Linked DNA regions of Homo sapiens. The protein of the gene in region 1 purifies or fractionates together with the protein of each later gene. This does not show direct contact. Each region holds a gene or a part of one and is shown on either strand. Other genes may lie near its edges.

Region 1 (3,518 bases):
TAGATGATGGTGATAATGCTGGTAGAAATAGTGACTATTAAGTGCTTACTGAGTTCTAGGCTCTAGGTGATGCACTGTCTTTTTTGTATGTAGGGACCATCCTTATTCCCATCTTACAGAGGCAGACTCAGGCTTGTATAACAGATTGCAACTCAAGCAGTCCATCTGCAGAGTCTTTATTCTTACCTAGATACTTGATACAGCTGAAATTCTTCATTGTGCTCAGTCCTTCTTTATCCACAGCATCAGTGAGCCTCCTTCAGCTCCCATCTCTCCTCGGATGAACAAGGGGGAGCCTCAACCCCGGAGACACTTGCTGGGGTTCTCAGAGCAAGAGCCAGTTCAGGGAGTTGAACCTCTCCAGGGGTCCTCCCAGGGCCCTAAGGAGCCCCAGCCCAGCCCCACAGACCAGCCCAGTTTCAGGTGAGGAGAGAGAGAGAGGGCCCCCTCTCGTTTGAGGGTATGAGTTGGTCTTCTCCCCGCTTTCAGTGAGGGGGACCCAAAGCTTTCTCTTGCCGTCATCGCCTTCTTTGTTGTGGGAGTGCTGGGCAGTCTCCAAGTGTTGTCTCCTTCCTGCTTCACTCCAGCAACCTGACAGCCTTCCCTGGGGGCGCCAAGGAGCTACTACTAAGAGACCTAGACCAGCTCTTCCTCTCCTCTGATTGCCGGCACTTCAACCGCACTGAGTCCCTGAGGTGTGGGATTCATTGCTGGGGCATCCAGCTCCCCCGGCCTCCCAAGGCCTTCTGCAGTCAGCCTGGCTGGCCTGTGTACTAAAGCGCCAGTGCTCCCTGCCCTCTCCTCACTCCTGTGGGTGGGCAAGGAGGGTGGGAATCTTGGCCTGGCATGGAGGTCCTGAGCTCCTCCATTTCCCCAGGCTTGCTGACGAGTTGAGTGGCTGGGTCCAGCGCCACCAGAGAGGCCGGAGGAAGATCCCTCAGAGGGCCCAGGAGAGACAGGTAGGGCGGGTGGCTGGTTCAAGGAAGGCCACTTGAAGACAAGGGCTAAAGGCCTTGTCTGGGGATTTCTAGTGGGCATCTCGCTGTGGAAGTTTGAGGGATCGTTTGAAGGAAGTGGAGGGTTGAGTGGGAGGTGGCATCAGCTTCCAGGGGCTGTTTGTCTCTTTCCCTTTTCCCTTCACCCTCTCCAAGTCCTTAGATACTTCTCCTTCCAGAAGTCTCAGCCACGGAAGAAGTCACCTCCAGTTAAGGCAGTCCCCATCCAACCCCCTGGACCCCCAGAAAGGTGAGTGTGGGGTGGGGTGCTTACTTATTAAGTGAAATTCCACTTTCAAGAGCTGTACCCCCAGTAGCTGTCCTGTGCCTGTCATTACTGTCACCAGTGGGATTATACCTCCCTCCTCCACTGGGGGTCTCCTGTCTTTTTCTCTCATCCTACCCGCTTCCCTGGTAGAAACTGAGCATTGGGCTTAGTTCCCCTCAAATCCTGTTTCCCCACCTGCCTAGGGATTCTGTGGGCCAGCTGCAACTATATCGCCACCCAGACCGTTCGCAGCCAGCATTCTTGGATGCAATTGACCGACGGGAAGACACATTTTATGTTGTCTCTTTCCGAAGGGTGAGTTTCTCCTGCCCTTCCATCTCTGTCACCCCAGGTTCCCAGCAGTCTGTCTTCAGTGGGGGGATGTAGAGTAGGGCTGGGGAGCTTGTTGGCATCTTTGCCTCCACCCTTCTGGCCTGGCCCATCTGTTCCCCAGGACCACCTGCTGCTCCCAGCCATCAGCCACAACAAGACCTCCCGGCCCAAGATGTCCCTGGTGATGCCTGCCATGGCCCCCAATGGTAACTCTTTCCCTGCTGGGTATGGGGGCAGTTCCAACAGGGAGATCCAGCCTGGGAGCTGAGGGGGAAGGGGGAGAGGAGCAGGGCATCCAGAGAGCTGCTGGACCCACAGGTGAGAAGCAGCAGGAAGTAGGTGGAGGGAAGAGCACCATGCAGGAGACTTGGGAGGGAGACAAGGGTGAGGGTCCTTCCCTGGTGAAGGTGCTTGGGTAGATGACTGGGCAGAGGCGGGGGGCCGGGAACCTGCTAGACTCTCACTTACTTTTTTCTCTTGATGTCCTCTCCTGTGTGACCCCACACTCAATGCCCTTTTCTTTTCCTACCCTCTCCTTGCCCCTGCACCAAACTCTGTCCCTGCCATCCTGTTTAACTCCCGCTATGGATCTGCCTCCTCACTATTGCCCTTTCTTTTTCTCTCTGCTCACCTCTACTTTTCTGACCTCCTCCCCTCCTCCCTGCAATCCCTGTTTGCCTCCCCATCTCCTCTTCCTTAACTCTCCCCTTCTCACAGAGACCCTGTCAGGCCGTGGGGCCCCGGGGGACTATGAGGAGATGATGCAGATCGAGTGTGAGGTCATGGACACCAGGGTGATTCACATCAAGACCTCCACAGTGCCCCCCTCGCTCCGAAAACAGCCATCCCCAACCCCAGGCAATGCCACAGGTGGCCCCTTGCCAGTCTCTGCAGCCAGCCAGGCCCACCAGGCCTCCCACCAGCCCCTCTACCTCAATCATCCCTGACCTCTGCCATTCACACTGACTTAGAACGGGGGGAGGGGGTACCAGGTGGCCAGGTGGGACTGTTTCAAATTTCCCTGATCCCCAGGCTTGGGGCAATTGGTAAAGGAAAGAGCAGGTGTGGGGGTTAAGCACTTATTTGAGGTGGGGGTGTTCACCTCTCTTCTCATCCCTTTTCAGAATATAGGGCTCCTCTCATTCCTGTGAACCCCCAGTCCTGGCTTCTTTGTTTGAGGGGATTGTGTGAGGTTCAGTTGTGGGGTGGGTGGTGAGCTGCTGCATATTTTTTATTTTGTTTCTCTAGTGTTATGGCAGTGGAGGTGGGAATTTAGTCCCCAGGTGGGACAAGGGAAGTTTTTTCATTTTGGAGCTAGTTACTGGGAGTAAGGGAGGGTGGGGTGGGGGGGAGTTCAGGTTTATGTGTGTGCATTTCTTTTTTATTATTATTAAATAAACAACTTGGAGGGAGTTGAAGGAATGGTGGCTGCCTTCCTGGCTCGTGATGGGGAGTTTGGGGGAAAGTGGCTTTTCCAGAGCCAGCATCAAAGAATCAAGCACTGAAGACATAGCTGGCTCTGAGGTGGGGTGGGTGCGGGATCACAGACCGCATGTCATCCCCTTGCCCCCACCCCTGCAACTCTGGGGTATATCTGTGTCTAGCAACGATGTCTCATGGCGTGACAGACTAGAGGATACGCATCCCTGGAATGTGAGTCAACAGGAAAGATGGGGCCCCACGCCCTTCAGGGTGAGCAGCCTCTGGGTCTCCTGCTCTCGAGCAGGTTCTCCCCCTCTTCTTGCTGTCCAGGATGAGCAGCTCAAACAAACAACAAGAGCTGGGGCCAGAGGCTCAGAGCCCAGGAAGTGGGGGTCTCGGTGAAGAAGGGGTGATATTTGGAAGGGAAGGGGGATGTGGCAGGATATCCTCTAAGCCCTAAACTGGAGGGGACTGAGACTTGAGAGTCCAGATGAAAGACA
Region 2 (7,093 bases), on another chromosome or scaffold:
GCGTTAAAGTAATGGTAATAAATTACTATGCTGGATGAACATGGATTATGGCTGTTTAAGAACCTATGAAAAATGTACTAGTAACTTCAGAGCAAATTTATCATTGAATTATTTCCAAAAGCTGATGACTGCATACACAAATTAAATATTACGATGTTCTTAAAATGCATTCTGTTATAATGTAAATTTTGTATAAAATGGGACTATTGTGGACCTCACCAAGAAGGTTTATTACTAGAACTAGATTGAAAATGGAAATAAAGTCACAGAAATCTCCTGTTTAATTGTAGACAAACATGGATGCTTATTTATTTACTTTAATAGTTAATTCACCAAGGCTAATGCTATGGAATAGAGCTACTTCAAAATAATATGGAACAGAGCCTACTTCGAAATAATAGATTATGAATAAATTATTCTGAAGTAAGATCAGCAACATGCCAATTTGAGTTCAGGTGCAACTTGTAGGTGGAGGATTTGCAGACAGAAAACCACAACTAGAGTCCTGCTAGAGGGGCTAATCTGTTGAAAGAAAAATGAGCTTCTGTAGAAACAAATAAATGCCTCATACTTGTCTTTAAAAGTGTAACATGCACCACTACAAAACTGAAAACTAATGGTTATAGCAGCTGTTGTTTCAACCTCAGAAGCTGTGACAGCAATGAAAACATTATACCAATGTCTGGTCCAATAAAACTCTTGGTTTCCTGTGTTTTGTGTGGGTGGACAAAGTAATAATAGCAAAGAAAGAGAAGTTGTATCACTTTAGCCTAAACACACTGTGTAAATTTGTTGTTGTTTATTTGTAGAGATAAGATATTAGTAACTTAAAAATGACCTAAAGGAATCCCGAAGAGTTCTACAGTTCATTACTCATGGCAAGTAAAACTAAATACTCAACCTTATGAACTTTTAAAGCTGAAAATCCAAGATACTTGTAGAATGGGAAATGGACAGAGATGATGGTTTAAATTTTCAGTGGCATGTCCAAGCCATGAGTGTAGGTAGAAAGCCATGCTGAATCATTATCAATTTATTGGGGTAGAAATGACACCTTTAATGTTAATTTTATAGCTAACATCACAAAATAAGACTGATCATAGATATCTTTGAATCTGAATGTGAGCCTGAGGACTATTTTAGAGAAGTATATTCTACCTCTATGATGGAGTTTGTGTGAAATATTATAAGACTCAAAAGTAAACTTAAACTTTTATCCTCAAATACAGATATTTATTTTAAAGAGACCTTTAAGAAAATTGAATATCAACATTCAAGACTGAAGTCAACAAAGCATTCTGTGATACTTACAAATGTGAAATAAGTAGTTATAATTAAACTTTTAATTAAAAAGCTGCCTCGTCACTATCAAAACATTATGCATATCGGTAAGAAAACAGTGGTATGAATAACATGTCCTTTTACGCTACAATTATGTGTAAAATTACCTACTGAAATTGCTCTCCCATTACTTTGCCTTCTCCATAAAGAAGTTAAGTCTAGAGACCTTTTAGTTTGTTCTGGTCTTTTCTCTCCCTTCAGGAACTTCCATTAGTACACAACCAGCTAGGTATCTTCCTGTTAGAAATGAAAGTGTGATGGGCAGTCTTTAGTACCAGCTTAGCCAGTTTTCCCTAGTCTTAAAATTTGATTCAGGCTTAGTTTGGGCTTAATTTCACAGCTGCACCCAATGATTCACATACACACATGAATAACTTAATTCTTTGAATAGTTCTTAGAATGTCCATCACGAAAACTTAAAAATACATTGAGAAAACCCCTAAAACAATATAGAATATACTTTGTACTTTTTGTTTATCCTCTAACCTTGTGACCACATGGTTAATACTAATCATGGTATTATTGGTTGCAAAGGAAATGAAAATAACAGCCCACAATATTCTATATAATTTATGAAAGGTTAAGGTATCATATATGAAAACTGAGAACTCCCCCACCCCAAACACATTTTGGATTTTTTGCATGTCAGTAATGAAGTTCACTTTTCACCACCTTTCCAGTTGGAACATATAAAATGTATGACCTCTAATGCCTAATACATTAATGATCTATTGAACTAAGTTAACCCTTATAAAGTTCATAGAAGTGAAAATGTGGTCTAGAACAACACTGTTTGATAGAACTTTCTGTGATGGAAATGTTGCGTATCTACACTGTGCAACAGAGTGGCCACTAGGCACATGTAGCCATCAAGCCTTTCAAATGCGGCTTGTGTGACTAAGGAACTGAATTTTAAATTGTATTTAATTTTAATTAAAGTTAAATAGCCGCATGTATTGGATTAGCAGTCTAATAGACCCTTCAAACATTCAAGTAAGTGTTGGAAATGGAAGGTCCATTATAGGAAATCTAGGAATCTTAAATTCTCACCATCGGGTTTAAAACTCTATCATTCCTTCAGTATGAACTTTTCCAGAAGTTTCAGATTTTCAAAAGATAAAACTCAAACCAACCAAATCCTTTAGGGTGCTTTTCTGTATGAATCATCTTTCTGCAAAGAGGTGTAAGACTGTCTTTATTGCCAACTCTGCCCCCTCTTCTACAGACAGAACTCAGTGATTAGATTCTGCATTTATTTAGGTTATTCGCCTAAAAAACCTGGTTTCCATACTGCAAATAAATGACAGGAACTTTTCCACTAGATTATCCCAGACAGCAGAAATGTTCTTTCCAAAAGTGGAGCCTGGAACCACAGCCCCCTCACATTGCCTGTTACATCTGTTTATGCTTATAGAAGTGACATCCACTTCGTAGACAGAGAATGCCAATTTCTTGGGAAAGGACCCAGAATTTGGTGATGCTTAAAGGAAAAAAAAGCCCTTGCTGCTTAAAATTAAAAAATACATAGAACTGAGTATTGAGTAGTTACAAAATCCTTCTGAAATGAAAAGATTTTGCTCCCAGAGTATATAGAATTTGTGTACGGACTTGCCTGGGTTCATATTCAGCCATAATCATTTACTATTAATAGCCAATAAAGAAGCGGGTAAGTTACAAAACCTAAACCTTAGTTTTTCCATCAGTGAAATGGGGCTAAAAATAGTTATGTTGGGAAAACTTGTGAAAGACTTTGAAATGAGCAAAAGATTACTGTTTGTCCTTTCAATGGAATGCTGGATGTTATCTACAGGACTCCGGAGTGTTGTGAAATTTACAGTCGTCTGCACCTTACTTAGACTGACTTTCACTAGGCTATTTTACTACTCAGTAAGCTGTAGAAACGTTTGGTAATGTAAATGAGTTTTATCTACAGAATGCAAATTTGTTACTTTACAGATACAACTGGTTACCGCCCTGTAAAGCAGATAATAATAAACATTACATTTCAGTGCTCTATAGAATAGTAAGCAGATTTGCCTCTTCTTGCCTCTATGTCTACTCTTCACAGTCTCACGTGAATGGGTTGCAGTATCTTGCTGGGGTTCCCTTCCTAATTAAAAGAGTTATAAAAATTTTGACCAATGTTCATTTTATATTTCTACCATTGTCATGTTTTTACCTTCTTGAAAAATTATTTTTTAAGAGTTCCTGCTCCCTAGGCTTTTTGGAAGGATTGGTTTAAACATCTGTATTGACAGTCATGATCAGTTTTATATCTTGCAGGAAGGTGGTAACACTTCCGGTACTTGGGGGTGTAAGAGGTTGTACTGAGCCTTTAGAAAAGGGCGGGGTTCGGGGGGGAGTGAGCTGAAAAACTCTCCCTAGACAGGAAAGGTAGAAGACCTCCTCATCCCTTTCTCTTTGGCAGTGAGATCTTAAGGTCAAGGTGAGTAGTAGGCCAGGCGCAGTGGCTTAGGTGAAGGCCACACCAGACTTGGGCCTACGTCTTGGCCTTCCAGGTCAGCAGAGTGGCCTGGGACTTGGATGCCTTGGGGTCACGGAGTTAACTGCAGACTCAGACTAAGTGGGGCCCCAGCAGCGGTCAGCCCCAGAACCAAGTTCCGGAGCCAACACCCGAACAGGAAGGGGCCTTGCCCCAGGCCGGAGAGGCCCCTCGCCCACGGCCGAGGGGGTGGGGCGGCCTCGCCTCGGGCCGGTGCTTTTCGCCCTTCCTTGGCCGCCAGAGGCTCCCTCTCTCTCCCTCTCCCGGGATTTTGCTGCCGGGCTCCCTCTCTCTGCGGCCCTAGAGTTAATCCCATCAGCCGAGGTGAGGCACCTGTTACCCCGGCCTTCCTCACCCCCGCGGCCTCTCCTCCATTACACCGCGGCCGCCGAAACGGCCCGGCGTGGCGACCGCACGTGGGCCAAACCCCTTCCCCGGCCGGCACCCCTGGCCCCAGGCCGGCCCGAGCGTGCGGGCGCGTCGCTGCTCGGGCCGCCGCCCGCCCGCAATGGCGTTGGGGAGCGCAGCGCGCCTCCCGGGGCCGCCCGCCGCGGGCAGGGAGCGCCTGGGGGCCGACGCGCGAGTGGAAGCGGCCGCCGCAGCCGCCCTACGCGCTGCGCCGTGAGGAGCGGGTTGCGGTGTACCCAGCGGGCCGGCGCCGAGCCGAGCCGCCGCGTCCACCGTGGGGCGGGGGGCGCCTGCGAGGAGGGGGTGGGAGCCGCGGCGGCCCGACCCTCCCCGCCCGCGGCGCTCCCGCTCGGGTAAGGGGGAGGCTGAGCGCGGGGCGAGGAGTTGGGGAGGGTGGAGAGGAGGAAAAAATCGGCTTGTACAAAGGCTGAGTTGCAGGCTGGGGGTGGGGGTGGGTTGTGGTGGAGGAGCAATAGGTTGAAGATCGGAGGCATTATCAGTGGGATCTATTGTTTCCTGGCACATTGGGAGGAAAAACAAAGGGATTTATTTTCATTACCCTGTAATTTTTTTTCTTTTCTATTTTTTTAAATGTGGCCAGGGAGCTCGTCTCTCTCCGTGTCACAGTGGGATCCGCCTGGCAGCCGCCGGGAGCTGCAGCCAATGTGTTAGGACTTCAGGTGCTTCTTGGCACAAAGCTAGACTGCGACCTCCTACCATAGCGCTTGGCGTCACCTGCTCTCCCGGTCCTGCCCCAGGGCCGAGGGATTGCGTCCCGAACCGGGCTTGGGAATCGGCTGCCTCTCAAGTTGGTGTTATTTATGTTTGTCTTTTGTGAGGGCAGGTTTTGAATCCCCCGGCGGCCCCATCTCCCCCGCCCCCGCCTCCTTGGGTTGGAATTGGCGGGGGAGGGAATGGGGGGTGTGTGTAGGGGAGAGGGGAGGGTGTTTGTGGCTTTAAAAAGAATGGTCAGGGTAAAAGGAGATTGTCGATGCTTTACAAAAAAAGAAAAAAACAGGCACCACACTCCAAAGCCTTTCTTGTTTGTCTGCATGGGCCATGCATGCGTGCTGGGCCAGGAGCCGAGTTTGGAGACGGTTTAAGTGAAAGTGTGTGCCTCCTCAGCTGATTGTGCGTGAGGGTGATGTGGCTCGGTCTAATATCAAAACAAAACAAAAATAAAATGAAAAATCTTTAGAACTGCCTGCATTGTCTGCTCCTCAGCATATCTTGAAGTATTTGATTGCTGGCTTATTGATATAAAATCCTGCTGTGGGCTTAAAGAGACCAGCAAGCATGCATTGCGTTGCGTGTTGAACTGTAGTAAGTTAGAGGCAAGAAAGAATAAACAAATCAGGGCTGTGAAAAGGGGTGTCACAGTATATTTGCTTTCTGATTGTCACATTCTTACGCATTTATTCCCTTGGTAGTCTGCATCCCACTCCATAATTAATAATAACCACTGTTAGGAAACTTCCAAATACTTGTTATAACTGAACTTAGTGAAACTTATTGCTATTCAGGAACTTTTTTTCTCCTTGTTTTGATCTGAAATTGCATTAGTATTGCTTTGGGGATGCTGTAGATGAGAACATTGGACCAAAAAAAGTAAAATATGCCGCTGTAGGCATGTTTTGGAGTTTGTAAACATAGATTCCAAACTTAATTGTACTTAGAAAGAATAAGTTCTACCTAATTGTGGAGAATCCTAAATGAAGTTGATTTTCTGGACAGTTTGATGATTTCTTAAAGATCGATGAACTGCTGGTTTCTTTTTAAAGGGCATTCACAAAAGCGACCAAAACTTGGGCTAAAGTATTGCTTTCAAATATACTTATGTGTAGCTTGTATTTGTGAGTGTGTGTATGTGTTTGTGTGTGTGTGAGATTTTGATAGGTATCTCCAAATTGTGTTTGGAACTTTTTTTTTTTTTTTTTTACCAAAGACCAATCAGAATGATAACTTTTTGACTTTTAACTTCCCATTTCAATGAGTAATCTCTTCTGTTTGCCACGTGGCTAAGCCATTTGGAAAAAAAAATGTATGTTATTTGACTAGACATAAATTCAAATAAGTAAATGAATTCAGAAATTCATTCTTTTCTATTGCAGATGAACCTCTAGTCTTGCTTTGAAAAAATCATTCTGTGTAACTCTTGACTGTGACTAAGTTCCTAATACACCTGTTGGGACGATCACTGACACCGTATACCATTTGAGAGGTACTTTTCTTGACCCAATACTGGTGATTAGAGAAGAGAGGTATCTTGGTTTTTGGTTTTTTTCTTTGATCATTATGAACATTGGCTTTTCACCCCTGAAGTGAAAATGTTGAAAACTGAGTCTTCAGGTGAACGAACCACTCTCAGAAGTGCCTCTCCTCACAGGAATGCATATCGAACTGAGTTTCAGGCACTGAAAAGTACCTTTGACAAACCCAAGTCAGATGGGGAACAAAAAACAAAAGAAGGTGAGGGCTCCCAGCAGAGCAGGGGGAGGAAATATGGCTCCAATGTCAACAGAATTAAAAACCTATTTATGCAGATGGGTATGGAACCCAACGAGAATGCTGCAGTCATTGCCAAAACAAGGGGGAAAGGTGGACATTCATCTCCTCAGAGAAGAATGAAGCCCAAAGAATTTCTGGAAAAAACAGATGGCTCAGTTGTTAAGTTGGAGTCTTCTGTTTCTGAACGAATTAGTAGATTTGACACTATGTACGATGGCCCTTCATATTCCAAGTTCACTGAGACTCGAAAGATGTTTGAGAGAAGTGTGCATGAATCAGGACAGAACAACCGCTATTCCCCAAAGAAAGAGAAAGCTGGAGGGAGTGAACCTC

The links. Proteins that work in one complex are often made in the same cells at the same time.
Region 2: the proteins of ATF6B (region 1) and PPP1R9A purify together in Homo sapiens (affinity purification with mass spectrometry; 2 studies listed by BioGRID and IntAct, with this or other methods). This does not show direct contact.

What each region holds. Positions count from the first base shown.
Region 1 is NC_000006.12:32,114,764-32,118,281, reverse strand, and holds the end of ATF6B (cyclic AMP-dependent transcription factor ATF-6 beta), read left to right. Parts: intron 1-243; coding exon 244-423; intron 424-587; coding exon 588-695; intron 696-877; coding exon 878-959; intron 960-1,174; coding exon 1,175-1,245; intron 1,246-1,466; coding exon 1,467-1,578; intron 1,579-1,717; coding exon 1,718-1,802; intron 1,803-2,313; coding exon 2,314-2,543; 3' UTR 2,544-3,018; downstream 3,019-3,518.
Region 2 is NC_000007.14:94,903,535-94,910,627, forward strand, and holds the start of PPP1R9A (neurabin-1), read left to right. Parts: upstream 1-4,059; 5' UTR 4,060-4,168; intron 4,169-4,418; exon of another isoform or gene 4,419-4,605; intron 4,606-4,710; exon of another isoform or gene 4,711-5,060; intron 5,061-6,363; 5' UTR 6,364-6,579; coding exon 6,580-7,093. UniProt on the Homo sapiens protein: Binds to actin filaments (F-actin) and shows cross-linking activity. Binds along the sides of the F-actin. May be involved in neurite formation. Inhibits protein phosphatase 1-alpha activity.